Regions from separate parts of the Homo sapiens genome. Here all the other regions are reported to be linked to region 4. The links are microRNA targets in miRTarBase. Many come from high-throughput screens and were not tested one by one. Region 4 holds a microRNA gene; each other region holds the end of a gene's coding sequence. Distances are from middle to middle.

Evidence for each region. The annotated mature microRNA hsa-miR-3136-3p reads UGGCCCAACCUAUUCAGUUAGU and lies in region 4 at 3,474-3,495, shown strand. An mRNA with a match to its seed (bases 2 to 7 or 8) in the 3' UTR can be bound and repressed. Matches are read on the target gene's strand: a 7mer-m8 pairs with bases 2 to 8, a 7mer-A1 pairs with bases 2 to 7 and ends in A, and an 8mer does both.
Region 1: miRTarBase lists RAB43 as a target of hsa-miR-3136-3p. Seed matches in the 3' UTR shown: 7mer-A1 at 1,679-1,685, 7mer-A1 at 2,726-2,732 and 7mer-A1 at 4,010-4,016.
Region 2: the mRNA of EZHIP is a reported target of hsa-miR-3136-3p. Seed matches in the 3' UTR shown: 7mer-A1 at 1,454-1,460.
Region 3: miRTarBase lists ETV3 as a target of hsa-miR-3136-3p. Seed matches in the 3' UTR shown: 7mer-A1 at 4,665-4,671, 7mer-A1 at 4,699-4,705 and 7mer-A1 at 5,159-5,165.
Region 5: miRTarBase lists TGFA as a target of hsa-miR-3136-3p. Seed matches in the 3' UTR shown: 7mer-A1 at 881-887 and 8mer at 2,351-2,358.

Annotation. Positions count from the first base shown.
Region 1 is chr3:129,086,139-129,092,506 of GRCh38, reverse strand. RAB43 (RAB43, member RAS oncogene family) reads left to right here. Exons shown (of 3, transcript NM_198490.3): 3 at 1,161-4,935. The coding sequence ends at 1,411. It overlaps ISY1-RAB43 (ISY1-RAB43 readthrough), which reads left to right. Exons shown (of 13, transcript NM_001204890.2): 13 at 1,161-4,935. Among named protein-coding and RNA genes, the nearest start is that of GP9, 29 kb to the right of the region's middle. RefSeq lists an enhancer at 3,513-4,057.
Region 2 is chrX:51,407,270-51,413,637 of GRCh38, forward strand. EZHIP (EZH inhibitory protein) reads left to right here. Exons shown (of 1, transcript NM_203407.3): 1 at 1-1,574. The coding sequence ends at 1,259. Among named protein-coding and RNA genes, the nearest start is that of EZHIP, 3.5 kb to the left of the region's middle.
Region 3 is chr1:157,120,596-157,126,963 of GRCh38, reverse strand. It overlaps ETV3 (ETS variant transcription factor 3), which reads left to right. Exons shown (of 5, transcript NM_001145312.3): 5 at 985-5,773. The coding sequence ends at 2,123. Among named protein-coding and RNA genes, the nearest start is that of ETV3, 15 kb to the left of the region's middle.
Region 4 is chr3:69,046,093-69,052,460 of GRCh38, reverse strand. MIR3136 (microRNA 3136) reads left to right here and starts at 3,426; the gene lies at 3,426-3,503. TMF1 (TATA element modulatory factor 1) reads left to right here and starts at 128. Exons shown (of 17, transcript NM_007114.3): 1 at 128-516; 2 at 3,899-5,103. The coding sequence starts at 375. RefSeq lists an enhancer at 67-536.
Region 5 is chr2:70,445,243-70,451,374 of GRCh38, reverse strand. It overlaps TGFA (transforming growth factor alpha), which reads left to right. Exons shown (of 6, transcript NM_003236.4): 6 at 509-4,091. The coding sequence ends at 516. Among named protein-coding and RNA genes, the nearest start is that of TGFA-IT1, 33 kb to the left of the region's middle.

The sequences.
Region 1 (6,368 bases), 60 Mb from region 4:
TACAGGTGTGAGCCACTATATCTGGCTTAGAATAGTATAATAATGAGCCCCCAGGTACCCATTACCCTGCTTCAGCAATTAGCAACTGAAGTCCAACCTCCTCTCATCTGTACCATGTCACCTCCCCTCCCTCGGATTATTGAGACAAATTCACATCAAACCATTTCACCTGGCAGTATTCCAGCATGAACCTACAAAATATTTAAACACTTAAAAACAGCAATATTATTTTCTCATCTAAAAATACTGACATTTCCTTAATAATATAAAATAGCCAGTCTGTATTCAGATTTATAATTGCCCATAAAATTCATATGTGTTTTATTTTTTCCAGTTTGTTGAGATCAGGATCCAAATAAGTTTCACACTTTGAAACTGGTTGCTACATCAATTAAGGTTACCAAGGAAATTTTAGATCTTTACAGACTTTTTTTTTTTTTTTTTTTTTATGACGGAGTTTCGCTCTTGTTGCCCAGGCTGGAGTACAGTGGCACAATCTCGGCTCACTGCAACCTCCGCTTGCCACTCCTGCCTCAGGCACCCGAGTAGCTGGGATTACAGGCCCCCGCCACCACGCCTAGCTAATTTTTTGTATTTTTTTTAAGTAGAGACGGGGTTTCATCATGTTGGCCAGGCTGGTCTTGAACTTCCAACCTCAGGTGATCCACCCACCTCGGCCTTCCCAAATGCTGGGATTACAAGCATGAGCCACTGCGCTTGGCCCAGACTCTTTTTTTTTTTGTCTTCCTTATAACCACATTACAAAAGTCAACCATGTAGAGACTTTTAAAAAATTATTCTAGAAATTGGGTCAAGGAGCAATTTAACAGATTGTTTGGAATGTAATGAAGTCATCTCATACCATCTAGGAGGATCTGGGTAAATTGAGACGGGGTCTCACTGTGTTGCCCAGGCTGGTCTTGAATTCCTGGGCTCAAGCAGTCTTCCTGCCTTAGCTTCCCAAAGTGTTGGGATTACAGGCGTGAGCCACTGCACCCGGCCTAAAAAAGGTTTTTTAAAGAAAGACAGATGACCATGCCAGGGGTGTCCATTTATAGTGGTGGAAGGGAGTGGCATGGGGCTGTCAGCGTGACCCTCCCAGGTGGGACTGGGCTTGCCCAGCCCCCATGGCCTCATGCTGCCCCGGCTTTCCTCCGCAGGGAACAAGTCAGACCTCAGCGAGCTTCGGGAGGTCTCCTTGGCTGAGGCACAGAGCCTGGCTGAGCACTATGACATCCTGTGTGCCATTGAGACGTCTGCCAAGGACTCGAGCAACGTGGAGGAGGCCTTCCTGAGGGTGGCCACGGAGCTCATCATGCGGCACGGGGGCCCCTTGTTCAGCGAGAAGAGCCCCGACCACATCCAGCTGAACAGCAAGGACATCGGAGAAGGCTGGGGCTGCGGGTGCTGACCAGGGGCCGGGCCGGCAGACTGGGGGTTCCCCACCTCCTTGCTCTCCCCAGCCTGCCAAGCCCAGCCCTCCAGAGCCAGCCCTCCTGGGTACCGGCAACTACAGCAGCCGGGTGAAGCTCTGGAGCTCTGCATCCTGTGGCCTGGCTGCGGGATGGAGGCTCTCCTTGAGGAAGGGGAAGCAGGATACCCTGGCGGGCCACCCTGCCAGCCAGCAGCTGGCCCTCCACCATCTTCACATTCCAAGACTGGCCTGAACCCGCCGGTGTGGGCCACAGTAGGAGGGGCCAGCAGTCCTCCCTGTCCCATGCCTGCTGGCTCTGACCGTTTCCTCTCATGGGTTTGCTTTACCTGTGGCAGCAGGTTGCTGCTTTCCAGGGATGTGTCCAGTGCCCTGGGTTCTTCCCGGTCATCCTGGGGCTCTGCACAGAGCAGCAGAGCTAGAGCCATGAGACCCACAGACTTGGTGCCTGAGCGCAGCTCCAGGGAAGCCCCAGCCCCTTCCAGGCGGGGAACCTGCTTCCTGCCTTCACTGCCCCCGCAGCACTCACAGACATCTCCCTGGGGTCTGGCTCACTGCCTTATCAGGACCTCTGAGTTTTCTGACTTTCTGTGTAGCTTCTCATTTTCATCAGCACAGCATGGGGTCACGGCCCACAGCTAGGTGGGGTCACGGCCCACAGCTAGGTGGGGACTGTCTGCTGGCTCAGGGCCCAGTGTTTTGCCACTCAGGTTGCAAAATTAGCTAATCCTTCAGTGCCAGCACTCAGAAGTCTGGCAGGTGGGGGAATGAGATGAGAAAGTGGACATTTAAGGTCCAAGTAGAAGCTTGCATCCTTGAGGCTCAGGGATGAGAGGGCACCGCAAGGCACCCAGCCTTACCCCACAAGCAGGAATCCTGCCAGCCGAGCGTGGGTCCCAGTCTATGGAATCGAGTCTCCCAGACAAAAAAGGAGAGGCCCTGGCGGTCCTTGGCCTGGCCCATTTTATTCCCTGGACCCTTAACTGCCTCACCCTGAGCTGGGCACCAAGGTTAGAAGGCAAAAGTGGGGTAGGGGGATGTGGGAAGCAGCATTGTCCTCTGGGCATGTGGCTCAGAGGTATCACAGTGACAAAAGAGCCAGGGCTAGGGCTGGAGGGGCCAGGTGATCTTCCTTAGCCAATCCCAGTCCGTCTGTGTCAGCCCAGCTCTGCCTCGCAGCCCCCTCAGCATGGGTGCCCCCAGAAGTAAGCAGCTCTTGGACCCACGAGCAGGGCTGCGTCGGTTTGTGGTCTAGCTCCCAGGGGCAGGCCAGGCATGGCTCAGTGCAGTCCCTGGGCCAGTGAGAGGCCTCCCCCATGCCTCCCTGCCCTCTGCACTAAGCACTTTCCAGGCAGGCCTGGCCATAGGGCAAGAGCAGGCCTTACAGCAGTGCCACGGTGACCCAAGAGGCAGGGTTGGGGCCTGGACAGGGTTTCCTCTGCTGAGACTGAGACAAGCAGGGCTTGATGCTGGTGGTGGAGCCAGCATCTCACCTGCCAGGCTTCCTTTTGGGCAGGGAGGCTACCTGTGGAATGGCTGAGCCTGGTTCTGCAGGGGAGGAAGGCTGCCAGGAGCTGAGGGGCTAGCACCTGCATTGAGGGGAGTCTGGGTGCATCAGATTGGGGGGCGCCAGAGGCGAGGCTGCCTGGCTCCCTTTCTCAGCAGCTTTGCTTGTGGCAGGGGTGAGAGTGGAGCTGAGTGGGGTCTGGGCTCTGCCCCTGCGCCTCCACTGCAGTGCCTGGGCTCCCCTTGCAGGGCAGACAGTGCCTGGCACTGAGGGGTGCCCCCAGACCCCGCTGGGACTGGATGTGCCGTGGGCAGTGCCTTCCTCCAGCCTCACAACCTTTCTGCTGGGGCTGAAGTTTCTGGGGTCACATGGTCAGAAGGGGCTGAGCTGGTCTTTCACTGCAGGCCCACTCTGAAAGAGAAATCCCATGAAGCCTGTCCTTGCAGAGCCCCTCTGTTTTTGGGGGAACAGGGAGCATTCACAGGGTCTTGGGAACAAAGGCCTGGGCCTCCCCGTTTGAATTTCAGCCCCAGTTCCAGGGCAAGTCCCAGCCACCCAAGCATACTTACCAGTACTGCCCACCACCACCCACTGCCCACCTCTAAGAAGCCCGGCTCTCCTACTCTGCTTCCAGGCTGGGGCCTCACAGGTGGGGCTGTTACCTTCCTCAGGGCTTAGGGAGGGAGGGAGGACATGGACAGGGCCTTCCACCCTGGCTCCTTCACAGGGATGGTAGCTGACCGGTGATGGGTTCATTTGTCACCTTGGACTGTGAGCCACTTCCACTTCTCGCCCCCCAGGCAGGAGCACCCTCACTCCAAGGGCTTGGCCTGGAAAGGCAGGCTCACCTGGGACTCAACGTTCCTTCCCCCGCCGCCACTGTGCCCCCCGTCCCTCCACCCCAGAAGCCCTGACCTCATTTGGGCACCTTGCTGTCCTCTGGGCTTCTCCTCTGCCCAGGTCACCCTGTGGCAGGCCTGGGCCCTCAGGATGTTTCAAAGGCTCCACAGCTCCACCGCTCCACCTGGCTTCACTCCAGCACCCTGTCCCTGGAGCACCTCTGTCCTGTCTGGGCCAACCTGGTCTCCCTGCCCCATGCCCTCCCCTGGCTCTTAGCAACCTGCCCTTTTATTCATGCCATTTGGGGTCACAGATGCCTAGCTGGACACAGCTCCCAGAACTGGCTCCACCCTGGGGCCTTGCCCCTAGTACCCCCTGGCAGGAGCAACCCACCCCATGGTCGAGGTTCCCCTACCCCTGGATCCTGGACTGAAGCCATTTCCTACAGAGAAGCGTTCCCACCCCCTCTCAGGCACAAAAGCCGGTGTCCAGGGACTCAAGACCTGTACCTGGGGTTGCAGGGGCTCCTGCCCTGCTGTATCCCACCAGGAGGGGGCCCCACTGCCCTTCCGGCCCTTAAAACTGGGCTGGGAGAGAAGACGGGGAAGTGTGTGAGACAAAACAAAGCCGGCTTGTTTCCTCCCCTTGGCAGGCTAAGCTCTCCCGGCAGCCCGGGCTCTGGGGCGGAAGGAGAACAGTGTCATCTCTTCCTTTGTTGATAAATTGCCAAAGAGTGGGAACAGGTGGGGTCAGGGGCCAGAGTGCAGGGGAGGGGGCAATGGTGGAGGTGGCGGGGGGAAGCAGAGGGAGGTGGGCTGAGGCCTCGGTGGGGCCAGTGCGACGCTGGCTTAAGGAGCTGGAGGGGTTCCTAATACACATTTAATTCAGTTTCTCTTCCCTAAGAGGCTGCCGGAGTTGGGGCCTCCTCCAGCAGAGACCCTCGGACCCCTGCAGGGCCTGGACTTGGGGTGAACAGGGCTTCAGTCAGCGCAAGTATTCCATTTGCATTTGGTAATTTTTCATGCCACCTATTTATGAATATATAAATCTTTATACCAAATCTATTTTTTAAAACATGGAAAAGTTGCCTTTATGGAAACTTGGCAGAGCCAGAGTGTACACATTCCTAAACCATTAAACAGATTTCTATAACAAGCCACTGCGCCCAGGACTGGTTCTCTGATCTTTGAGCCCAGAGGCGGCCCAGGTGGCCACGTGCCTCAACTAGTCTCCAGGCCCGGGGTGGTAGACAAGCTGCCCCCTGCCAGTCTGCCACCCAGAGCACTGTGAGACCTTCCCTCTGTCCCTAAACCCTTGGGGGACCCCCCTGAGCAAGAAGCAGTTGGTGCCTGAGGGGCAGAGGAAGCTTGGGCTGGGTCCCTTCTCTGGGACACCCCAGGTTCCTCCCATTGGGTTTGTGTTGGAGAGGGCTCTTTGGTGATTGGCAGGGGCACCCTCACCCCGACCTCCCCATGAGGGAAGCGTCACTCTCCTGAGCACACAGGCCTGGATGAGGAATCCCTTGCCCGGGTCTTGTAGCCACATTGATCCCACAGTGGCAGGAACAACCCACCCCATGGTCGAGGTTCCCCCCACCCCTGGATCCTGGGCTGAAGACATTTCCTACAGAGAAGTGTTCTCACCCCCTCTCAGACACAAACGCCAGTGTCCAGGGGCTCAGGGCCTGTGCCTGGGCTTTGGGGGGCTCTGACCTGTTGTTATTCCGAGTTAGGACTTAAGAACACCATGAGGGGCTCTTGCTTCTGTGATGTGACCAGCACAGAGATGTTACCAGGCACACAGTAGATGCTCAGCTTAGAGAAGTGCCTGAATCAGGTCTCTGGCACTGGGAAGCCCATGAAATCCATAGCCTGCCCACCAATATAATCAGGGGTCTATTCCTGGTCACTCAAATAAGGGGTTTTCTGCCGAAAGGGACTCTTAAACAGCAGGGCTGCTGGTTGGTCACCCTGAGGAAGAAGAGGGGGGCCTAGCAGTGCTGCACCACCTTGCCAAGCCTGAGACAAACTGACATGATGGGGCTCATAGCAGCCTGCCGTTGAAACCTAGGTGTGCCCTGACTGTCCTGTGGTTCTGGGCAGGTCACTTCTCCTCTCTGGGCCTTGGTTTCCTCAAACCTGGGATCCTATTCCCTGTCCCATTTGCATCCCGGGGAGCCCTGAAGAGACCCCAGGAGGGGAGTGCTTTATGCACTGAAGGCCTGGAACAGGGCACTGGAGGAGGAAGACCCAGAGCCCTGGCTCTCAAGACAGGCCTGGCTCCAGGCACCTGCCATCCTTCCCAGGGAGAAGGAAGGCCTGATGTCTGAACTCCCTCTTCTCTTCTGAATGCCAGGAAGCACCAGAGTGCGCGTGTGCCCCTTGTAAGTCAAACCCATAACCAGGCCTGTCTGAGCCCGGCCATCCGCACGCTCCCAAGAGGCTCAGACCTGGGTCAGTCTGTCCCTAGGGCCCTCTGAGGCCTCTACCCAAACAACAGGACTGCCCAGACCCCAGAGCAAACAGACAGCACAGGTCCACTCCTTGACTTCAAAGTATGGAAGCTGAGACTGGATCCCAGAGAGTCTTG
Region 2 (6,368 bases), not on the chromosome of region 4:
GGCTGCCAATCATAGCTGCTGTGCTGACGGAGAGGCATTCTGACCGCCAGGACTGCCGCAGTCCTCACGAAGTTTTTGGGTGTGTGGTGCCCGAGGGGGGCAGCCAGGCCGCTGTGGGGCCCCAGAAGGCCACTGGCCACGCCGACGAGCACCTGGCCCAGACCAAGAGCCCCGGGAACAGCCGTCGTAGGAAGCAGCCCTGCCGCAACCAGGCTGCCCCGGCTCAGAAGCCTCCAGGGCGGCGTCTGTTTCCTGAGCCTTTGCCGCCATCTTCTCCAGGGTTCCGGCCCAGCAGCTATCCCTGTTCCGGGGCTTCTACGTCGAGTCAGGCAACCCAGCCAGGCCCTGCACTCCTAAGCCACGCATCTGAGGCAAGGCCTGCTACCCGAAGCCGCATCACCCTGGTAGCTTCTGCTCTCCGCAGACGTGCATCTGGTCCAGGCCCTGTCATCCGAGGCTGCACCGCCCAGCCAGGCCCTGCTTTTCCACACCGCGCCACTCATCTAGACCCTGCTCGTCTAAGCCCTGAATCTGCGCCAGGCCCTGCCCGCCGAGGCCGTGCATCTGTGCCAGGCCCTGCCCGCCGAGGCTGCGATTCTGCGCCAGGCCCTGCCCGCCGAGGCCGCGATTCTGCGCCAGTCTCTGCCCCCCGAGGCCGCGATTCTGCGCCAGGCTCTGCCCGCCGAGGCCGCGATTCTGCGCCAGGCCCTGCCCTTCGCGTCCGCACAGCAAGGTCAGACGCCGGTCATCGCAGCACCAGCACGACGCCAGGCACTGGCCTCCGGAGCCGTTCCACCCAGCAAAGATCAGCCCTTCTCAGCCGCCGCTCTCTGTCTGGGTCAGCTGATGAGAATCCTTCCTGTGGGACTGGCTCAGAAAGGCTTGCCTTTCAGAGCAGATCAGGCTCTCCTGATCCTGAGGTCCCAAGCCGTGCTTCCCCGCCTGTTTGGCATGCAGTCCGTATGCGTGCCTCCTCACCCTCACCCCCTGGGAGGTTCTTCCTTCCCATCCCTCAGCAGTGGGATGAGAGCTCCTCCTCCTCCTATGCTTCCAACTCCTCCTCCCCGAGTAGGTCTCCTGGCCTAAGCCCCTCATCCCCTTCCCCTGAGTTTTTGGGCCTGAGATCTATCTCCACTCCTAGCCCTGAAAGCCTTAGGTATGCTTTGATGCCTGAGTTTTATGCTCTGAGCCCTGTCCCTCCAGAAGAGCAGGCAGAAATAGAGAGCACAGCTCACCCCGCAACACCGCCTGAGCCGTGACCCTCTATAAGCATCCTCTAAGACCCACAGAAGGAATCAACATTTACCCACTTTGTGAATGGGCTGCCTGCCCTGTAGTTAGCTGCGAGGTCTCCCAAAGTTCCAGCCGTTAACCAACATCCTGAGTAGTTTAGAAGCCTCTCCTCCCCATGACTCCACCACCTAGCACTTAACCTGCTGTTGGCCTTTGATTCTGGGCCACCTTCTTCCTCAAGAGTTTGCCTTTGCCCTTGAGCTGAGATTTCTGTTTTCCAAGTTGCTTTTCTGTTATGAAATGTTTTAATTAGTAAAATAAATTGTTTTGTTTAAACAAAATGTAGAGGTGTGTTTTTTTATTGCGGTTCGAAAAATCGTTAATCCTATATCATATTTGGAGGGTTAAAGAAAGTTGTTAACATACTAGCTGACTCTTTGGACGAGAGAAGAAATAAAATACTGTCCTAGCAATAATTTATTCCCACTGGCTGAAATGGAGTTCTGTGCAGGAAGTTCCCACTTAGGTCTATATACCCTCTTAGCAGAGGTGATTTGCAACTTGGGCAAGAAAAGGGGCCAGGGTCTAACCCAGGTGGCTGGAGAAAAGGAGGGGTGATGGAGACATCCAGGGTCAGGAAAGGAGCAGGGAATGATGAAGTTTGGGATGAGAGGTAGGGAGACGATAACCCAGATGGGAGTAGGGAAGCTGGGAGGAAGATCCAGAGTCAGGAAATGGGGAACAGCAGGAGTCAGAAGCTTGAGAGGGGAATATCTTAGATTCTAAAGGATAAAAAAATGTTTATGTGTGGGGAACGGGCTCCTGAGGTCTTTGGGGGTGGGGAGAATGTGGGAGGGTGATTTGGGGCTAATAATTGATGGGAAAATGGTCAGACATTCAGTGGAAATACGTGTTAATCGATAATGTTACTGTAACAAAAATAATTGTAACTGAGTTTGAGCAGATATGTGAGGGTGTGTGTGTGTGTGTAGACATTTGGAGAGAACTACATGGGCATACACCATGCTGTGAACAAGGTGTATATCTTTTTTTTAATAACTGGTGATATGGTCTTCTATAATCTACAAGTTCCACATTGACCATATAACTATTTTTTTAAATTAAACTCCGCTGTTTTTTGAAAATTTAAGTTGTAGAAACATAATAGGAGAGACTACATTAAAAGAACAGAGTGAAAAAATATAAAGCAAACCAGCAAAAGAAACTCCCTTTCCCTCCTTTCTCATATTTCTCCTCTCCTTTGCTATTCTGGTATGTGAACAGTACAAGCATAGTCCTGACCAAAAAGGGCCCTGGTCACAATTTGGAGGGTCCTGTTCAGGCCCTGCTCATGCTTTATTCACACCACAAAGCTAAGAGTCCATGGGGGATAAGTGGGACCTGTGTGCCCACCAGGTCCCAACATCCTGCCACTTTTATAGAAAGTGTTTCAGGTACCCTCATTCTTCAAGGCTGTTTCTAGGGCTTGCAAGGCCGTATTCTCAGGGTCCTTCCTAAGGAAAGAACACATATTTTAAAAGCTCTCACTTTGTTATATTTCTTTTTCTTGAGTAATTCTAGATATCCAAAGACTAAGACAAAAAGTAGACAGTTCCAATGCAGCAAGTCACAACCTCCCAGTATTGGAGGGCCTACATTTATTCCCATTTCACAGATGTGGAAATTGAGGCTCAGAGCAATTTTGTGATTTTCAAAATCTCATAGCTAATAGAGCTTGGCTCCAGAGTCAGAATTCCTGGGTTTGAATTCTGGTGTTCCTATTGAATCACTGTGTGACCCAGTGCAAGTTAGTTAACCTGGGATCCAAAGCTTCTGCATTTGTCAATTGGGCACAGTAAGAGTGTACGTCTCCAAGATTATTGTAAGGATTAAAATGGATGGTGCATATTAAGTGCTTCCAACAGTGTCTTGCACATCGTGAGTGCCCAGTACAGATGGTTCTTACTCTGATTAGGATTATGATCATGTGTCCAGATATTTCTGACAGCCCCTTAACAGGTTACTGGTCTTTCCTAAACAACAATACTTTCAAAATCAAACTGGCTGTTTCAAAAATGGAGAGGGACATTCTTTATTGTACTTAGTACTTTAAAATATGAAGGCATTTCCACAAGCTATTGAGCAACATTTTTACCAATACCAGAGGCCACTGCGCAAAAATGTAAAAAAAAACAAAGGATTGAGCCTCAGAGGTACAAACTCTAGGAATTTAACAAATTTATACTCGCAGTCGTTACATGAATGCTTCTGAGAACAGTAGTTTTTCTCCCAGCGTTATTTGTATCTTAACTTGTTTAAAATATTCATTTTAATGAATGAATGGAATACATCAAGGATTAACATTATTGACTGCAAGTTGCCTTTATATAATACCTGGCATGCAGATATAACAGGTAAAAATCATAGTATGCTTGTATGTGTTAAGTACTGTTTTAACGTTTATACATACACTAACTCGTTTAATTCACAGAACAACCTTAGGAAGTAGATGTTCATATTGAGCCCATTTTATAGATGAAGACGTTGAGGAACAGAGGTTACATAAAATATGAAGGAAAGACACATTGAACTGTGGACTCTGTCATGGCCCCCTTGCGAGGTTATTAACTTCTTTTGTGAAGTAAATTGCATGATATGCCCCTGCACAGAGTACTACTGTTTTGCCAAGTGTGAAGGTAATGGTTTGGGCATGTTCATCTGCAATTTATTATGAGAAATGGTGTTGGTTTTGTATTGTGTAAAGTTACTCTATCAACCTAAACTTCATATGGAAGGTGAACAATTCTAGCCCAACCACATTAACTCATTTCACTCGTGAAAATATTCATAGCTGGAGATTATAATTGATTGTGTAGGAAAGACTTATCTACCTAGAAGCAGAAGCAGGTTTAGAAAGTAACAGCAACATTACAGGCCTTTCCTGGGAATTTGTGTGCCCTGTGTGTAGCTTCCCTTTGTGTCTCCATGTCTAAGTGGTGTCCAATCCCCAGAAACAGCTGTGAACTGGGAAAGAGGTGGGGGTGAAAGGCCCATTTCAGAGCCCTGCACTCCTCACAGCTGAGCACAGCTTTCACCCCAGGGTTCCTCTGTGGGGAACATGAAAACACCCGAAAATCCTTCAGCTGCCTTTCCCTGGAAGTTGCCACAATCAGCTACTATACTGAACAGTGCTGGTTTTATGGGCACGTGACCTGTGCAGTTGCACAGGCCCCTGCTTGCTTTAATGATGTGTTGTTGCCATCTTAAATGCTTAATGATTTTTGAACCAGTTGTCCCTCATTTTCATTTTTCACTGTACTTCACAAATTATATGGCTGATCCTAAAACTGTTTTTAGTACTTAAAAAAAAAATTTCTAGCAAGCAGAGTGCCAGGAAGTGTAGCTGGTGGCTGGTAATAAAAACAGATGACATTGCCATAAGAGTGAGCTTAGGGTAATGCAAACTGCATGAGACACTGGGGTTGGACAAGCCTAGGCTTGAAATTTGCCCCACCTCTGCCTTGCTGTGTGACCTTAAGTAAGGTTCATAGTCTCTCCGATCCTCAGTTTCCACACCTGCAAATTGGGGATAATAGTATCTACTTTATACTCACAACTTCCGAGAGGAGCCTAGGATAATCCTGTCTACCCACCCTTCTGGCTGTGGTTTAGGGTCCTTCCTCCGTGTTCCCAGAGCCTCTTGTTCTTACCCTTGCCAAAGCCCTCATTACACAATTTTGGAAATTATATTTCTGTATAACCATCTTCCCACTAGACTATGAGAACTTTGAGGACTTGGACAGAGCCTGGATTTTCCGTCTGTCCCCAGAACCTAGGGGCCCTAGGCCTTGGTAGGCAGAAAGAAGTATTTCTTGGCTTAATGGTAATAGTATAAGCTACATGCTTAATAAAGAATAACAACTAATATACAAAATATGTGTTGGAAATAATATGTAAGAAGTGTGTAAACCCAAGATATTTCCCTACTTAAATTTTCTTCACTCAGAGAGGGCGTGGCCTTTTACCCTTTTTTCAGAACCATCAAGAGCCAGTGTTTTCCCAATATCTTACTTCATAGTGTAACTGGCAACTTCTGTTACTCCCTCAGTCTCAGATTTGGCCTCACAGTGGACCTGCACTGGACATGGCACTGAAGGCTTCCCAAACACAGTGTTATTGATGCTAAATAGGCCGTCAAGAAATATTTGTTGAATAAATGCCTTGTTAGATTAATAGAAGCCAGCTAATTACATTATTTTATTTTATAGGTAAAAGGATTCTATATCATTTGGTCTTATACTGGCAAAATCGAGGACATGAGCTAAGAAGTCAGTGGAATTGTCAAGTTCAAGGAGCATGTTCACACACACACAAAGAGCCCACTCTCCCGGTGTTCTGTTTTTTCTATGACCACTCATTTCCAGTCAATTTCACTTTCTTCTCCTCTCCTGTGTTCCATTTTCACATCAATACACTATATTGCAAATGCCATCAAATTCATCAGATACAGACTTTTATTGAGCTTCTCAGGTTGTGTGACTGCCTTCCCAAACAGAATGTGAGCTTCTTGAGGGCAGGGAACATGCTATCTTGGTCATTACAAAAAACAGAATCTAAAATAATGCCTAAAATATGGTAGGAGTCACTGAATAGTTGTTGAATTAATTAATCTGTTGTGACACATATGAAAAAATATCTGCCTTTCAATTTGAGGATCGTTGTATAGGCACCATTATTCTATAGACACTACCTGTATAGGCAATATGTGTGTGGCTTTTTTTATCAGTTACCAGATGCATTCTGATATTCAGCTGTAAGGAATTGAGAGAGGATTATTCCAATTCCTCTTTCTACAGCATTTTTGTATAGTAAGTAGTACAGTTTTCAGTACACACCTTAAATAAGGATAGTGTTCCCCAAACCACAGGCATTCATAAGAAACCTTTAGGATTTCTTAAAATTTTCTTTCTTTGTGTCTTTCCCTTTCTTTCCTTTTTACTTGCTTTCTCATTATCTTTGCCTCTTCTCTCTCTCCCTCCATCTTTCCCTCTTCTCTTTCTCCCTCCATCTTTCCCTCCCTCTCTTCCCGCTTCCCCTTCTTCTTTCCTTCCTTCCATTGTATGGATAGTCCACAA
Region 3 (6,368 bases), not on the chromosome of region 4:
GTCAGCCAGGGCAGCTCTGTCCCTCCCCACAGTCAGCCAGGGCAGCTCTGCCCCTCCCCACAGTCAGCCAGGGCAGCTCTGTCCCTCCCCACAGTCAGCCAGGGCAGCTCTTCCCCTCCCTACAGTCAGCCAGGGCAGCTCTGTCCCTCCCTACAGTCAGCCAGGGCAGCTCTGTCCCTCCGCACAGTCAGCCAGGGCAGCTCTGCCCCTCCGCACAGTCAGCCAGGGCAGCTCTGCCCCTCCGCACAGTCAGCCAGAGCAGCTCTGCCCCTCCCTACAGTCAGCCAGGGCAGCTCTGTCCCTCCCCATATCCCATCTCGAAATATATCTGTATTCCAACAAGGAAAAATGGGATAGCATGTGGGTAGTCTAGGCAGTGAGTAAACATCAGATGTCCTCTTGTAGCAACTATCTATATGTTGTTATTATTTTCTATCTTAAATGTTCTCGAATGTTTATATTTCAGTAAACCTCTACCTCGTCACACACACACACGAATATATATATATGGCCAAAATTATGGAAATAAGACTATTTGCAGAGCTAAAAATTGAAACAGGTAATATATACACAATATTTAGAGTTGCAGAGGAGAAGGCTCTTGTACCCATTCATTCATTCCACTTAATATTTATTGTGTACAGGAAGTACACAACCGTTAAGCCCTGAACTGTGAGGTGTACAGTTGTGAACAATAGGAAGTCCCTGCCATGTGGAATTTAGGTTGTAGAATATGGATAAGCAATTACAATGTTTTTGACAGTAAGGAGTACTGTGAAGACAGTGAAGAGCCTAGAGAAGGATGACAAGTTGAGTAGAAGCAGCTGAGCAGTAGTTACTAGGAAGTTGGAGAACTGTGGGATTCAGTCCAGTTGGAATGATTGTTTCCTGTTACTACTAAATATTTTGCACTTAGTTAGCATAAGTGATGATAATGAATGAGCAGTCCTCTGATGCAGGCTTTTGTATTTTCCACCATCACAGGTGTGGTTCCTCAGAGTGCACCACCAGTGCCAACAGCCTCTTCCCGGTTCCATTTCCCACCTCTGGACACCCATTCTCCAACCAATGATGTGCAGCCGGGACGGTTCTCTGCTAGCTCCCTAACTGCTTCTGGCCAGGAGTCCAGTAATGGTACTGATAGAAAGACTGAGCTTTCAGAGCTGGAGGATGGCTCAGCTGCTGACTGGCGCCGGGGTGTGGATCCCGTGTCCTCCAGGAATGCCATTGGTGGAGGAGGGATTGGCCATCAGAAACGCAAGCCTGACATAATGCTTCCTCTGTTTGCTAGGCCAGGGATGTACCCTGACCCCCACAGTCCCTTCGCTGTCTCTCCAATCCCTGGCCGCGGAGGTGTCCTTAATGTCCCCATTTCACCAGCCCTCTCCCTGACTCCCACCATCTTCTCCTATAGCCCATCACCAGGCCTGAGCCCTTTCACCAGCAGCAGCTGCTTCTCCTTCAACCCTGAGGAAATGAAACACTACCTTCATTCTCAAGCTTGTTCTGTGTTCAACTACCATCTGAGTCCTCGGACTTTTCCCCGTTACCCAGGGCTCATGGTTCCACCACTGCAGTGCCAAATGCATCCTGAGGAGTCAACTCAGTTCTCCATCAAGCTGCAGCCCCCACCAGTTGGGCGGAAGAACCGGGAGAGGGTTGAGAGCAGCGAGGAGTCAGCACCAGTCACCACGCCCACCATGGCTTCTATTCCCCCAAGAATCAAGGTGGAACCTGCCTCTGAAAAGGATCCTGAGAGCCTCAGGCAGTCGGCACGAGAGAAGGAGGAGCACACTCAAGAAGAGGGCACTGTGCCAAGCAGGACCATTGAAGAGGAAAAAGGCACCATCTTTGCCCGTCCTGCTGCACCACCCATCTGGCCCTCTGTGCCCATTAGCACCCCAAGTGGAGAACCTCTGGAGGTGACTGAAGACAGTGAGGATAGGCCTGGCAAAGAGCCCAGTGCACCTGAGAAGAAAGAAGATGCACTGATGCCCCCCAAGCTTCGGTTGAAGCGGCGCTGGAATGATGACCCTGAAGCCCGAGAGCTGAGCAAGAGTGGCAAGTTTCTCTGGAATGGGTCAGGACCCCAGGGCTTGGCAACAGCAGCTGCTGATGCTTAGAACTGGAAGTGGATTAGGAGCTGTTTATACTATAATCAAATACATACATGTATTTATGTAGCAAGATTTCAGGGTGGGGGGGAGGGAGTTAAACTGGTTTGATCATTCTAGGGGCATAGACTTGTATTTTTATGTTTTGGGGATGGGATGGGGTTATCTTCTGTTGTAAATTAGGTGGGATATGAACACACTTATTTTCCTGGTGAGTAGGACACAGGGAGGGTATTGAACTCAAAGGAGAAGGAGCCTCTATTTCCTGTTGAGGCTTATACTTTCTGACAAGGAAACTCCCAAAGGGCCAAGATACTTTTTGGTCCCATGATAGTCAGGTTCCAGACTTCTTTCTTTTCTATTGTATTTGTATGTGGAAAGCCATTAATGAATTTATTTTACTCCAAGAGATACACATAAAAGGGAAAAGGGCATGGTTGGGAGGTTGAGCAGTAAGAGACCATTAATACTAAGTATTTTGCCTGAAATGCTTCTTTATAATTATTTCAGGGAAGGAATAAGATAATCTCAGACTTACTGGGGTGGGGCTTGGGGAATGTTTGGATGTTGCTCTTTTTCTTCTTCCTTCTTTTTTTTTTTTTTTTTTTTTTGGTTGGTGTTGTTTGGCATTTTTTTCTTTTCCTTTTTAAAGAAAATGTTTTCAGGAAACATGAACAAACATACTGCCAATTATAGTGGGGCTGGGAAGGCACAGGAGCTGGCGACCTCTCAGCTGCATAGTTGGGACGGCAAACCCTGCTGTGAGCTTCTCAGACTTTTCACCTACTTCACCTATTAAGAAGCCATGAGGAGTTGTAAACTCTTGTTCAGGGAAGAAAAGAGGGCAGGAGGAAGTAACCCAATGCCTTTAAATACAAAACAGATGAAAAACAAAATACTCATTTTTCCTTTTCTATTGTGGGTTTGGGGAGCCAAACCAAGTGTGACTGTGAGCACGTTCACTGAGAGGCATGACAACATTATTGAAGAGGTCTTTCCATTATGTCTGGTTCTCTTATTTTCTTAAGTCAAGCCTTAACTATGAACATACTTTAAGATGATACGGGTCTGTCACCATAAACCTGTAAAAGGGCATCGACAGCTTTTCAGATAATCCAGGAATGTTGAGACATGGCTAAGTTTCTAGCTGATACTTAGTCATTCCCTCTTGATATTGTTGGGATGGGTAGCCAAAAGGCAGGCTTGTGGGAGTTAAGAGCCAATGATACCTGGAAACATGGGAGGTAGCTGGGGGTACAAGTGGATGTTGAGACTGAAGGAAGAGGTGGAAAGAAGACACAGAAGGCACCCAGATGCCAAAAGGCCTGGCATGAATGAGAGTTGGCATCTGTCCTGTTGTGGTGTTCCCATTCTTGCCATACCCATTTGCCCAGATTGTTCTGATTCTCATGTTCAATTGACTATCCCACATGAGACTACAGTTTATAGGCAGTGAGGAATTGTTTCTTCCTGGGAAATGTCCTTCCAGCAACTTCAGAGGAATGGGAAAGTGTTAATCTTACGTGAAGCAAAGGAGCCTGGACTAGGGGCAGAGAGAAAGAAGCAGCAGCCCACCTTCTTTGTGTTTGCACATGTGCCTATGTCGTGTACATTGGTACCTGACTGTGGCTCAGATCTGCGTCGCAGCAGCGAGAGAAGAAATCACTCCATATCCGATGAGAGGAAGGGTGGCACAGAGATGGTGTCTACAATTAGAGACATTTCTGACTCCACCTTAGCCTAAGCAAACTTTATATACTGAGTAACATTTGAAGGTTGTCTTTTAATGGTGGGGGGTGTTTTTTCCTTTTTAAACTACAGTGCTTGCACAAGAGAGGGAGGGACTCAGAAAAGGTTAGGGCAGGTGAGGGAGACAGTAGATGGCCTGGGATGACTTGAGTCCATCATACTATTGCTTGGCAGGTGTCCTCCCCCATGTTTGATTCAAATTCCATGAGTGACCTACCTTTCCCCAGGAATGGGACTGAGAGGGTAGTCTCCAGCAACTCAGTCTGCACAGGGCTCCCCGTTCAGGCTGCCTTTGGTGGTTGTGCTTTTGTAAGTTTCTTTCTCTGCACTTCGACTTACCTCTGAATCAGAAAGCAAGCCCAGCAGGTGAATGAGGGATGTCTGCTTGGCATTGCCCAATCTAACCAGGGAGGCTGGCTGGCCACCCACTGTCCGCTAGAGGGGAGAGCTAGCAGGTGTTGGTATGAACTCAGGAATAGAAACACGAGGCCTTTTTAAATACGAGGGAGAAGAATCCATGATGCATACCTGTAACCCCCTAGAACCCAAGTGCCAGAATTCCTAGATGCTGCTTCTGTTTGAACAAAATGTCACTGCTTTTACACTTGAAAAAAACACACTCGAAAAATGTTCAACTCCATGAAAAATATTTTTTGGCTTTAAGAAATTGTTTGGTGTTTAACTGTTTCCTTTGATTGCCATTCCACCAGTAAATTGTTGGTTGATTTGCACTGCACTCTGGGGTTGGGGTTGGGAGGGGAGGGTCCTTATACAGAGCCGAACCTGGGGTTGCTCAGGAAGTGGGCCAGGGAATGTGGAAGTCGTTGACATTGCCTGGGCCAAAAGAGTGGGAGATAGTTTTTCTCCCCTCAGCCCACTCCTGGTAGCACCTGTCGCCAGCCTGGTACAAAGCCAGGCCTTTTTCTTCTGTGAGCATCTCATCACTGTCCAGCAGCAGGTGGAAAAAGGGGGACAACAACCAGACCTATTTTTTCTCCCCCATTTTTTCCAAATTTTGCTGTGCCAAATGTTTAAAATTTTATAAATATGAATCTATTGAAATTTCCTTAATCAAGAGCTTCTTCGTGTAAAGTTTGCTTTTTTAGCTATAGAAAAAGAAAACAGTAAATATCTCTTAATGGCATCCAGCCTTGCTGAGCTCACCTTTTTTCCTGAAGAATGGGTAGGAGTGAAATATTTAATGTAAACATTTCACCAAGTCCCTTTACCCTAATTTTGAAGCTGCATTAAACCCAACTCACTAACACAGGGAATGATTGCACCCTAGTCCTCTGTGGGCCAAGAAACTTTCAGAAGCATTAAAAAAATAGTTGAAGTATATCACTTCTCACCAAGTGGGTAGAGTCAGTTGGCTGTTTGTCCCTTGTTTTTTATTTATTCCATAATTATGTTTGTGCTTTTTGTTTTGTAAACAGTAATGGAACGTACATTTTTATTTTGTTTAGAAGACAACTTTGATTCAATCTTTCAAGAACTGTTCCATTCTTGGTTTCTTCTTAGGGGGATAAAAAGTTACCAGTTAATTTGTTTTGAGATATTTAAGCATTCTTTGAGTTATAGAATTGTGATGCAGGGATTTGTGAATGAGACATTTACATGTGAAAGGTGACTTCACTAGTTACCTGCTTGAGCAGAGTAAAGTGTGTATATGTACATAAAATGTAAGTAATCTTAACTCCATTGTGCAGTGCCTTTTAGATGTTCCGCTTTCTATAAAGTCTTCAAATTTTTGCATATATATTATATATATATGATGTAATGTTATAGAAATATATGTATAATATACATATTTTTTCCAGGGGTATCTGATAGCTCTGTATTTTGTTATGGAAGTTGAAAGAAAAAAGTATTTTACCTCAGAAATTAAATAAAAAAATACTTTTAAGTAATGTTTGCTGAGAGTTGGTTTTGTTGTTCATCATACACTGTGCTGGGGTGGTCATGCCAGAGAATTTGCCAAGTCCGTCCTCGCTCCCCCACCCTCATGCATTGTTATTCCTATTGTACAGGTACCAACATAGTAAGGAAATAGGTCTCTTAACAGTTCTGGAGATTTTCCATTTTCTTGAGTGAATGGCTGCTACCAGTTAAAACTAACTGAAGCCAGAGACGCAAGTTAGGTGGAAATTTCTATCTCAAGATTATTGTGAAGATTCTTTAAGAGTACATGTCAAAGCCAGACACAAAAGACCACACATTGCGTGATTCCTTTTACATGAAGTGTCCAGAATAGGCAAATCTGTAGCGACTGAACACAGATTAGTGGTTACCAGGGAAAAGTGGGGAGTAACCATTAGCAGGTCAGATTACCTTTTTAGGGTGATGAAAATGTTCAGGACTTAGTAGTGGTAGTTGGACAACTATTTGAATATAACAAAAACTACTGAATGACAACCACTCTGAAAGGGTGAATTTTATGGCATGTAAATTATATCTCAGTAAAGGTGGTTTCACTGGGTGTTTTGGTGTTTTAAGTACAAAACA
Region 4 (6,368 bases):
TGTAAGCACGAAATCGACATCAATAGAAACCCTTCCGCGTTCCTCGGTAACTAACGGCAACCCTGCGCTCCCGGATGTGACGTCAACGTTCTTCTGTTCTTCCGTCTGTCGACCGAACTCTGGGCTCGTAGATTTGGTTGCTGTGTACGTGGAAGAAGCAAGCGCATGCGCACATGGGCCCCCTTCGTCTCAGCTGTGCGGGAACGGCCGAGGGTAACATCCCGGGCTCGCGGGAGGCTGTCGGGGTAATGGCCACACGCTGACAGAACCAGCCGAGTGGAAAAGGGGAGCGAAGCCGTTCCTCTGCACCCTTCCCCAGGCCTGAGGCCTTCCCGCTTGGTGCTGCCGCCGCCACTGCCGGCTGAGGAGGGGCGATGAGTTGGTTCAACGCCTCCCAGCTCTCCAGCTTCGCTAAGCAGGCCCTGTCCCAGGCCCAGAAGTCTATTGACAGGGTTCTGGACATCCAGGAAGAGGAGCCGAGCATCTGGGCCGAGACCATTCCGTATGGAGAGCCGGGTAAGAGAGAGAGGAGCGGGGTTCCTGGCTCCCGGAGGCTGCTGTTCTCTTGATGCAGGCAGGTTAAGTGGTGTAGAGAGGGGTCCTTCCTTGCTGAGAGAGTTTTCAGGAAGTAATTTCTCCCCGGCCCGTTCCCTAATGCTGCTTCAGCCTCCAAGTCGGTCTTTGCTGTTTTCCTGAGGGAAAACCCAGATCCAGGTTCCCCCTTGTCTTTCTTTGGTCCTGGGTGCGAGGCTTGTGGACTTGGATGACAGGGGACTTGGTTGGTTGGTCTTGCCCTCAAGCTCTCCCTCGACGCAGCTTCCAAGCACAACCTTCCCGAACCTGAACCTCGAATTGCTTCGCGTCTCGGGCACTGTTGGGATCCAAGGTCTGAAGTACGTAAATCATCAGGGAAGGGAAGAACAATCGCTAACAGTCAGTGAACATTTCGCGCTTGGTAGCGCGTAATGTGGTTTTATGTTGTTGTTGAGACGGAGTCTCACTCCGTCGCCCAGGCTGGAGTGCAGTGGCGCGATCTCGGCTCACTGCAACCTCCGCCTCCCAGGTTCTAGCGATTCTCCTTCCCCAGCCTCCCTAGTAGCTGGGATTACAGGCGCCCACCACCACGCCCGGCAACTTTTTGTATTTTTAGTAGGGACGGGGTTTCACTATGTTGGCCAGGCTGGTGGAACTCCTGACTTAAGGCGATCCACCCACCTCGGCCTCCTAAAGTGCTGGGATTACAGGCACGAGCCTGTAATGTGCTTTTTTATGGCCTTCTCATCTTCAGAACAACTCCCAGAGAGAGCTTGGTTTATATCCGTGTTTTACATAAGAGGAAAATGAGGCCCAGAATGGCCAAGTAACTTGCTCTAGGTCACACGGCGGAGGAGGATTAGAATGTGCCGGAGGTATTAGCCGGAAAATGTGTGACCCAAGATTTCTGGATGGTATCACATTTTATTTCTGAATAGCCAAGTCTCTCTTTGCAGTTTCATTGAGCTTAATCTTTCAGGGATCTTCATTCAGTTGCTTTTGACTCTTAAGTCTAAGGAACAGTTCAGCATTTGATGTGTGGGGTAAAGATTTGCTGGTGTTGGGGGATGTGAACCTTTGTGTGAAAAAGGATAAGAGATGTACTTGACTACTCCTTTCTGGTTTCTGTTCTTAATTTTACATCATTGAAAAGTCAGGACCTAAATTTGAGGTACCTCAGTTTAAGATATTTTGGTCCATGTGTGTATGTGATGATCCTCTTTACTTTTTACAAGATGTCATATAACCTTGCTGGAGTAACTCTGTTTTTTCATATGTGCCCCAGTTAATTAGAATTACTAAACTTTAGATAAGATAGAATATAGGTTTTACATATAAGGATATTTGTTTTCGGAAAATGCCCATAGTCTTCAGAATGGTATAATTTAGATGGATACCAAATAACCCTGGGATTATATAAAGTATTCTCCAAGAGGCAAAATTAATTCCTGTCATCTTTTGAATGTATTTAAATTAATCAGACATAATCTTGGTTGTTCATTTGCATATTTAATTTTGATTTTCTCTGGTTTGGATATTGTGCAAATGAATGTGTAGAACTATGCCTCCAAACTGAAGTTTTCTACATACTTTTCATCCTAACTGCCTTTGAAGTCATACATATATTTACATATATATATATTTGTTTTTTTGTTTTTTTTTTTTTTGAGACACAGTCTCACTCTGTCATCCAGGCTGGAGTGCAGTGGTGCCATCTCTGTTCACTGCAGATTCTGTCTCCTGAGCTCAAGTGATTCTCGTGCCTCAACCTCCCGAGTAGCTGGGATTGCAGGTTTGCGTCACCACACCTGCCTAATTTTTGTAATTTTAGTAGAGACAGGGTTTTACCATGTTGGCCAGGCTGGTCTTGAACTCCTGACCTCAGGTGGTCCGCCCGCCTCGGCCTCCCAAAGTGCTGAGATTACAAGCGTGAGCCACTGCGCCTGGCCTGAAGTCATATTAAAGGATAGATTCTACTATAAGGCTTGATAGTTTTTAGAAGCTTTTAGTTACTTGTGCTCTCTCCACCAACTTCTAATTGTGAATATTTTGTGAATATTTTGTTCAGCCACATTTTAATTTGAAAAAGAAAACATTTTTAAAGAAATGCTTTAAATACTTTAACGAATATACCATTTTTAAGATCCTGATTATGCCATTTTTAAAAATCAGGATTTTAGTAGTAGCTATTTGTATGACTGATATGATAATTAACTTTTTCCCCAAGAAAACAGTCATTTTCTTTGTAGCGCTTTTTTAAAAACCCTAGTGTCAACCACCTCTATGTCAAAGAGCAATAGTTCTTAAAAAAACACACATTTCTGAAATTTATAATGACCTTGTAATTTCTGACATAATTTAGAATTTGAGAACAAAACTTCCTCTTAGAGTGGGCTTGGAGAGTGGGATTTAGAGAATCAGCCTGTGATTAAGTGGATGAAAATGAATTTGTTCTCTAGAACTTACCATTCCCATCAGTTTAATATGATCTTCGGGAAAGAACATTTGTCACCATTATCTTGGTTTGAGGCTTTTGTTGTTTTGTTTGTTTTCGAGACAGGTTCTCGATCTGTCACCCAGGCTGAAGTGCAGTGGTTTGATCATGGCTCACTGCAGCTTCCACCTCCTGGGCTCAGATGATCTTCCCACCTCAGCCTCCTGAGTAGCTGGGACCACATATGTGGGCCACCAGGCCCAGCTAATTAAAAAAATTTTTTTGTAGGGACAGGGGTCTCACTATGTTGCCCAGGCTTGTCTTGAACTCCTGGACTCAAATGACTCTTCTAGTGTTGGGATTATAGGTGTGAACCTCCATACCCACTGAGTTCAGTTTTTGAGTGTTGCCCTTTGTCTAGCTCATAACTATATTACTGATATTACAAGTAAAAATTAATATGAAACTGACTGAATAGGTAGGGTCATTTTTCTGTGACTGCACATGGCCCAACCTATTCAGTTAGTTCCATATTAGTTTATTTCATATTGATAAGTAAAGCGTGTTATTATGAGATGAATCATAGGTATCTTGGACTTACTGTGGGTTATAAAACATATACTGTTACTTCCTTAATTTGTTGTGGGGAGGAATAACATACTCGCATCTGGTAGTCCAGGCCAGGCCCAGTCTTTTGTCTGTGCTCCTCCTTCCTCTCAGGTGGACCCACACCAGTTTTCTTCCGTAAGTCCCTGTATTAACTTGGAAACTACTTAATGATGTAGTAAGCAAGGAGTTTAGCAGGTGCAAATTACAGGTATTTCATAGGGTATTTTTTCTAAATTTATATTTATACTGATTTATAATGATGATTGAAATATTAATGTAACATATATGTGTTCTTTTTTAATATTTACTTTTTTGTTAAAGGAATAAGTTCCCCTGTCAGTGGAGGATGGGATACTTCAACCTGGGGGTTGAAATCAAACACTGAACCTCAGAGTCCACCAATAGCCTCTCCTAAAGCAATCACAAAGCCAGTTCGGAGGACTGTGGTCGATGAATCTGAAAATTTCTTCAGTGCCTTTCTCTCGCCAACTGATGTCCAGACCATTCAGAAGAGTCCAGTGGTATCAAAACCTCCAGCAAAATCACAACGACCAGAAGAAGAAGTGAAAAGCAGCTTACATGAATCCTTGCACATTGGCCAGTCAAGAACTCCTGAAACAACTGAATCACAAGTAAAAGACTCTTCTTTGTGTGTTTCAGGGGAAACTCTGGCAGCAGGTACTTCATCACCTAAAACTGAAGGCAAGCACGAAGAAACTGTTAATAAAGAATCGGATATGAAGGTGCCAACTGTAAGTTTGAAAGTATCTGAAAGTGTAATTGATGTGAAAACAACTATGGAAAGTATATCTAATACGTCTACGCAGTCTCTCACAGCAGAAACAAAGGACATAGCTTTGGAACCTAAGGAACAAAAACATGAAGACAGGCAGAGCAATACACCTTCTCCTCCTGTTAGTACCTTTTCATCAGGTACTTCTACCACCAGTGATATTGAAGTTTTAGATCATGAAAGTGTAATAAGTGAGAGCTCAGCGAGCTCGAGACAAGAGACTACAGATTCAAAATCAAGTCTTCACTTGATGCAGACATCTTTTCAGCTTCTCTCTGCATCTGCTTGTCCTGAATATAATCGTTTAGATGATTTCCAAAAACTCACTGAGAGTTGCTGTTCATCTGATGCTTTTGAAAGAATAGACTCATTTAGTGTACAGTCATTAGATAGCCGGAGTGTAAGTGAAATCAATTCAGATGATGAATTGTCAGGCAAGGGATATGCTTTAGTGCCTATTATAGTTAATTCTTCAACTCCAAAGTCTAAAACAGTTGAATCTGCTGAAGGAAAATCTGAAGAAGTAAATGAAACATTAGTTATACCCACTGAGGAAGCAGAAATGGAAGAAAGTGGACGAAGTGCAACTCCTGTTAACTGTGAACAGCCTGATATCTTGGTTTCTTCCACACCAATAAATGAAGGACAGACTGTGTTAGACAAGGTGGCTGAGCAGTGTGAACCTGCTGAAAGTCAGCCAGAAGCACTTTCTGAGAAGGAAGATGTTTGCAAGGTAACTCTAGTAAGTGGAAGGGATTTTTAGATGTGCTTTTTGGAGATTAAATCATTTGTTTTAAAAAATACTTTCATTGATGCATAATAATTTATACAGATTTAAAAACATACGCATTTTGCCATTTCTGTGTAGCATTAAGTACCTTGAAGTTGAACAATTATTAATATAATTTGGAATTTCTCCAAGGCAATTATGGTAGAATAAGTTGATACTTCAATACAGTTAAGCATGAAAGTTTTCATCTTACATCTTTATTTTTGAGTCCTTATCACTTCAAAATTCTGTTATGCTTATTAGTATGTCAATTTGAAAGGAATATTTTCTTACATTAACATGTATCTTCACCTCCTTTGCAGATAGATGTGCCAAAAAAACTAAATGTTATGGTTTTTCTTGTATCAGAATTTGTTTTTACATGTTTACATTATTTGTAGCAAATATTAAATGATAATTTAAGATTTTAATTATTGGTGCTTTTCTGTTATTAGTATTTTCATTCATATATAAGGAGTATATATCCTTATATTGCTTCAGTTTGTTTTCTGCTTATGTTATTTTTGAGATCTCCTATTGATAGCTATATTTCACATGAACGAGAAAGAGAAATGTCTAAGGAACAAAAGCATTGCTTAGGAGGGACAGATTGCTTCTACCTAATACATGTGAAAGGAAAGTGATATAAATTCTTTGACATTAAGTCCTAGTTTTGGTTTTTACTGTGACTTTTAGATATACAAATTTAGTTGGATCTGGTATCTTTAATAGACTTCTGAGATGTAGGATGTCTTGAAGAAATGTCCTGTAAGTGCCATGTATTGAATTACTTAATTTTTTAAAAAAGTGCCAGATTCTGTTAATCAGGTTAAATATTCACAAACAAAATGCTGTGCAATAATATTTCAATTAGTAATAGCTATATACTGTAAGATATATAATAGGAGTTTGAATTCTTAGAAACCAGCACTAATTACTATCAGATATTTTTGAATTTCAGTGTATTTAAGAAGGTAAGTGATTTCTAAGTTCATCTAAACCAAACTCAGGTAAGACTATTTTTTTGAGTCCAAAAAGGAACCCTTCCTACTCCTTTTATACTCAAGTTTATCACCATTTGAGTAGGACCTAAGGAATTAGACATTCCAAGCATTACTTTTTGTTTAGCTTTATACTGATACATTATGGAGATTTAAAAATTCTTATGGGTTTTCTAAAATTACTTTTAGTGTGGATGGATGTATGTATGAATGAGACAGGGTCTCTCT
Region 5 (6,132 bases), not on the chromosome of region 4:
TGTCCAGGCTAAGCTGAACTCAGGAACTGAGGACGGTCCATGCTGCCTCACCACGACAGACACAGAGGATACCCTCAGGGCCCAGCCATTGAAAAATAAATGGGTCCATTCTTGTATGGCCTCAGGGGAAGCCTTTCTGCCACCAGAGCCCTGGACTAGGGCTGCCCACCAAGCCACCCCTTACAGGATCTGACTGCAGGCCAGATTAAAATGAGACCCTCACAACAGGGGGCATCCCCCCGCTCCCCCCCATCTGCCTTCCTTCTGCTATCACTCACTCACTCACTCACTTTCAATCAGTCTCTCTAGCTTCCTTTGGCACTGAAAGTACTAGGTCAGAGGTTGCGGTCCCTGAGACTGAACCAGCAGAATTTGGACTCGGGCCTAACTGCCCGAGAGAACTTGGTGACATTGGCTCTGCCATCTCCAAGTCTCTTTCCTAAGCTTATTTTCCCAACGTGGCCAGGGTGTGGCCCACAGTGCTTAACCTGTTTTTCCTTCCTGCCAGTGGTCTGAAGAGCCCAGAGGAGGAGTTTGGCCAGGTGGACTGTGGCAGATCAATAAAGAAAGGCTTCTTCAGGACAGCACTGCCAGAGATGCCTGGGTGTGCCACAGACCTTCCTACTTGGCCTGTAATCACCTGTGCAGCCTTTTGTGGGCCTTCAAAACTCTGTCAAGAACTCCGTCTGCTTGGGGTTATTCAGTGTGACCTAGAGAAGAAATCAGCGGACCACGATTTCAAGACTTGTTAAAAAAGAACTGCAAAGAGACGGACTCCTGTTCACCTAGGTGAGGTGTGTGCAGCAGTTGGTGTCTGAGTCCACATGTGTGCAGTTGTCTTCTGCCAGCCATGGATTCCAGGCTATATATTTCTTTTTAATGGGCCACCTCCCCACAACAGAATTCTGCCCAACACAGGAGATTTCTATAGTTATTGTTTTCTGTCATTTGCCTACTGGGGAAGAAAGTGAAGGAGGGGAAACTGTTTAATATCACATGAAGACCCTAGCTTTAAGAGAAGCTGTATCCTCTAACCACGAGACCCTCAACCAGCCCAACATCTTCCATGGACACATGACATTGAAGACCATCCCAAGCTATCGCCACCCTTGGAGATGATGTCTTATTTATTAGATGGATAATGGTTTTATTTTTAATCTCTTAAGTCAATGTAAAAAGTATAAAACCCCTTCAGACTTCTACATTAATGATGTATGTGTTGCTGACTGAAAAGCTATACTGATTAGAAATGTCTGGCCTCTTCAAGACAGCTAAGGCTTGGGAAAAGTCTTCCAGGGTGCGGAGATGGAACCAGAGGCTGGGTTACTGGTAGGAATAAAGGTAGGGGTTCAGAAATGGTGCCATTGAAGCCACAAAGCCGGTAAATGCCTCAATACGTTCTGGGAGAAAACTTAGCAAATCCATCAGCAGGGATCTGTCCCCTCTGTTGGGGAGAGAGGAAGAGTGTGTGTGTCTACACAGGATAAACCCAATACATATTGTACTGCTCAGTGATTAAATGGGTTCACTTCCTCGTGAGCCCTCGGTAAGTATGTTTAGAAATAGAACATTAGCCACGAGCCATAGGCATTTCAGGCCAAATCCATGAAAGGGGGACCAGTCATTTATTTTCCATTTTGTTGCTTGGTTGGTTTGTTGCTTTATTTTTAAAAGGAGAAGTTTAACTTTGCTATTTATTTTCGAGCACTAGGAAAACTATTCCAGTAATTTTTTTTTCCTCATTTCCATTCAGGATGCCGGCTTTATTAACAAAAACTCTAACAAGTCACCTCCACTATGTGGGTCTTCCTTTCCCCTCAAGAGAAGGAGCAATTGTTCCCCTGAGCATCTGGGTCCATCTGACCCATGGGGCCTGCCTGTGAGAAACAGTGGGTCCCTTCAAATACATAGTGGATAGCTCATCCCTAGGAATTTTCATTAAAATTTGGAAACAGAGTAATGAAGAAATAATATATAAACTCCTTATGTGAGGAAATGCTACTAATATCTGAAAAGTGAAAGATTTCTATGTATTAACTCTTAAGTGCACCTAGCTTATTACATCGTGAAAGGTACATTTAAAATATGTTAAATTGGCTTGAAATTTTCAGAGAATTTTGTCTTCCCCTAATTCTTCTTCCTTGGTCTGGAAGAACAATTTCTATGAATTTTCTCTTTATTTTTTTTTATAATTCAGACAATTCTATGACCCGTGTCTTCATTTTTGGCACTCTTATTTAACAATGCCACACCTGAAGCACTTGGATCTGTTCAGAGCTGACCCCCTAGCAACGTAGTTGACACAGCTCCAGGTTTTTAAATTACTAAAATAAGTTCAAGTTTACATCCCTTGGGCCAGATATGTGGGTTGAGGCTTGACTGTAGCATCCTGCTTAGAGACCAATCAACGGACACTGGTTTTTAGACCTCTATCAATCAGTAGTTAGCATCCAAGAGACTTTGCAGAGGCGTAGGAATGAGGCTGGACAGATGGCGGAAGCAGAGGTTCCCTGCGAAGACTTGAGATTTAGTGTCTGTGAATGTTCTAGTTCCTAGGTCCAGCAAGTCACACCTGCCAGTGCCCTCATCCTTATGCCTGTAACACACATGCAGTGAGAGGCCTCACATATACGCCTCCCTAGAAGTGCCTTCCAAGTCAGTCCTTTGGAAACCAGCAGGTCTGAAAAAGAGGCTGCATCAATGCAAGCCTGGTTGGACCATTGTCCATGCCTCAGGATAGAACAGCCTGGCTTATTTGGGGATTTTTCTTCTAGAAATCAAATGACTGATAAGCATTGGATCCCTCTGCCATTTAATGGCAATGGTAGTCTTTGGTTAGCTGCAAAAATACTCCATTTCAAGTTAAAAATGCATCTTCTAATCCATCTCTGCAAGCTCCCTGTGTTTCCTTGCCCTTTAGAAAATGAATTGTTCACTACAATTAGAGAATCATTTAACATCCTGACCTGGTAAGCTGCCACACACCTGGCAGTGGGGAGCATCGCTGTTTCCAATGGCTCAGGAGACAATGAAAAGCCCCCATTTAAAAAAATAACAAACATTTTTTAAAAGGCCTCCAATACTCTTATGGAGCCTGGATTTTTCCCACTGCTCTACAGGCTGTGACTTTTTTTAAGCATCCTGACAGGAAATGTTTTCTTCTACATGGAAAGATAGACAGCAGCCAACCCTGATCTGGAAGACAGGGCCCCGGCTGGACACACGTGGAACCAAGCCAGGGATGGGCTGGCCATTGTGTCCCCGCAGGAGAGATGGGCAGAATGGCCCTAGAGTTCTTTTCCCTGAGAAAGGAGAAAAAGATGGGATTGCCACTCACCCACCCACACTGGTAAGGGAGGAGAATTTGTGCTTCTGGAGCTTCTCAAGGGATTGTGTTTTGCAGGTACAGAAAACTGCCTGTTATCTTCAAGCCAGGTTTTCGAGGGCACATGGGTCACCAGTTGCTTTTTCAGTCAATTTGGCCGGGATGGACTAATGAGGCTCTAACACTGCTCAGGAGACCCCTGCCCTCTAGTTGGTTCTGGGCTTTGATCTCTTCCAACCTGCCCAGTCACAGAAGGAGGAATGACTCAAATGCCCAAAACCAAGAACACATTGCAGAAGTAAGACAAACATGTATATTTTTAAATGTTCTAACATAAGACCTGTTCTCTCTAGCCATTGATTTACCAGGCTTTCTGAAAGATCTAGTGGTTCACACAGAGAGAGAGAGAGTACTGAAAAAGCAACTCCTCTTCTTAGTCTTAATAATTTACTAAAATGGTCAACTTTTCATTATCTTTATTATAATAAACCTGATGCTTTTTTTTAGAACTCCTTACTCTGATGTCTGTATATGTTGCACTGAAAAGGTTAATATTTAATGTTTTAATTTATTTTGTGTGGTAAGTTAATTTTGATTTCTGTAATGTGTTAATGTGATTAGCAGTTATTTTCCTTAATATCTGAATTATACTTAAAGAGTAGTGAGCAATATAAGACGCAATTGTGTTTTTCAGTAATGTGCATTGTTATTGAGTTGTACTGTACCTTATTTGGAAGGATGAAGGAATGAATCTTTTTTTCCTAAATCAAGACTGGAGTGTTTCTTTAATGAGATTAGGATATTGCTCAAGGAAATGAAGACTTTTCTCTGCAAATATGAATGATGAGGAAAAATTAGATGATCTTTTGCAAAATGTGGAAATCCTATAATTAACCATAGTTGATCCCTGTCTCCTTGAAGAATTCAAGTTCTCTGAAGCTCTTCCCAGTGTATAAGTACTTAGTAGACTATGTGTCCAATAATGCTAATTGATGTGGTAGAAAATATATACAACCTCTGCCACTGCAGGAATTGAAATCTGGTCGAGAAGACAGACTGATACGCTAAGAATAATTCAGGACTATTTCTAGACAATACAAATAAGAGATGAAATTATAAGGTAGAGCATATATGTTAACAGCTGTGGTTCTCAAAGCATGGTTCCAGACCTGCAGCATTGGTATAACCTGTGAACTTGTTAGGAATGCAAATCTTTGGGCTCCAGCCCAGACCTACTATACTGTGGGGGTGCTCCATACTCTCTCTGCCCTCTGGGTGATTCTAATACATGCTCAAAATTTTTATATATTTTTTAATTTTGTAGAGAGGCGGGGTCTCCCTGTGTTTTCCAGGCTGGTTTCAAACTCCTGGGCTCAAGCAATCCTCCACCTTGGCCTCAGAGTTCTGGGATTATAGGCGTGGACCACTGCGCTTGGCTGATGCTCAAATTTAAGAACTACTGTGCTATAGGATTCAGTGAAGGGACAACTTACTTAGTGTTGAGCTACAGTTTTATGGAAAAGCTTTGAAAAGGCTTTGCAGAAGAAGTGAAACAGAGTTTACCTCTTGGAGTTCAAATGTAATAGCCATCAGAAAGTGTAGCCTTGAATGAAGGGCTGCATTTATCTGGATCTTCTCTGCTCAGCCTAGTTGAAGGAAAAAAATAGATCTGTCCATCTCCCACCATACCCCTGGGCTCACCCACCCCTGTTCCCTACCACCCAGTCTCTAATTATAAGGAATTGTTCTAAAACTGTCAACCGGATCTTACAAGCCCATAGTAAGGCCTCTGCACTTTTTTTTTTTTTTTTTTTTTTTTTTTGAGATGGCGTCTCACTCTGTCACCCAGGCTGGAGTGCAGTGGTGTGATCTCGGCTCACTGCAACCTCTGCCTCCCGGGTTCAAGCAATTCTCCTGCCTCAGCCTCCAGAGTAGCTGGAACTACAGGTGTGCGCCACCACGCCCAGCTAATTTTTATATTTTTAGTAGAGATGGGGTTTCGCCATGTTGCCCAGGATGGTCTCAATCTCTAGACCTTGTGATCCACCCGCCTCGGCCTCCCAAAGTGCTAGGATTACAGGCATGAGCCACTGCACCCAGCCAGGCCTCTGCACTTCTAACCTGTGGGTGGGTTTCACATATGCAACATAGGAAGCACTCACAGAGAAGTGGAGGGTGAAATCGTTGCTGCACAGTATAAAATCCTGGGCCCCAAAGAAGGTTCTACTCTTTGTAGGGAGGGACGAGCATGTGGAGCTTGCTGTCCAGACCCCAGAGGGCTTAGGATCAGCCAAACTTGCAGAAAGATGGAAACTCAAGGAATTCTTCATCCCAAGCTCCCTGGCCTGGCATCTGGCCCTCAGTAAAGTCTTTCCCTACCTCTTAAGAGAGAGTGGGGAGACTTGCTACCCAAACCTGGTCTTCCTCCTCATGACCCTATTCAGTCTTTAGAGACATCTCCAGGCCTTCTTCCTAACCAGTGGGATTTTTCACTAGTCCCCATTTTTTCTCCTCCTTCCCAATTTCTAAACCATCTACCTGCCAAGGCTGCCTGCCTGCCAGAACCAAGGTCCAGTGATTGCCCCTTGTCCTGGTCAGGTGCACTGAACTGTCTGGGGTGGGGAGGACCCATTCCAGGAAAAAGCACCGATCAACTTTGAATCAAGCCAGACCTTTCCTCATCCAGTTGACTTGCAGTTGACAACTTGAAAGCCATGTTCTGGATGCTTTGGGTCTAGCCTTTTTGGATCCTGTTGGCCCAAACTTCAGACCCCTATCTTTCCTAGTTGCCCTGACTTATGCCTGGC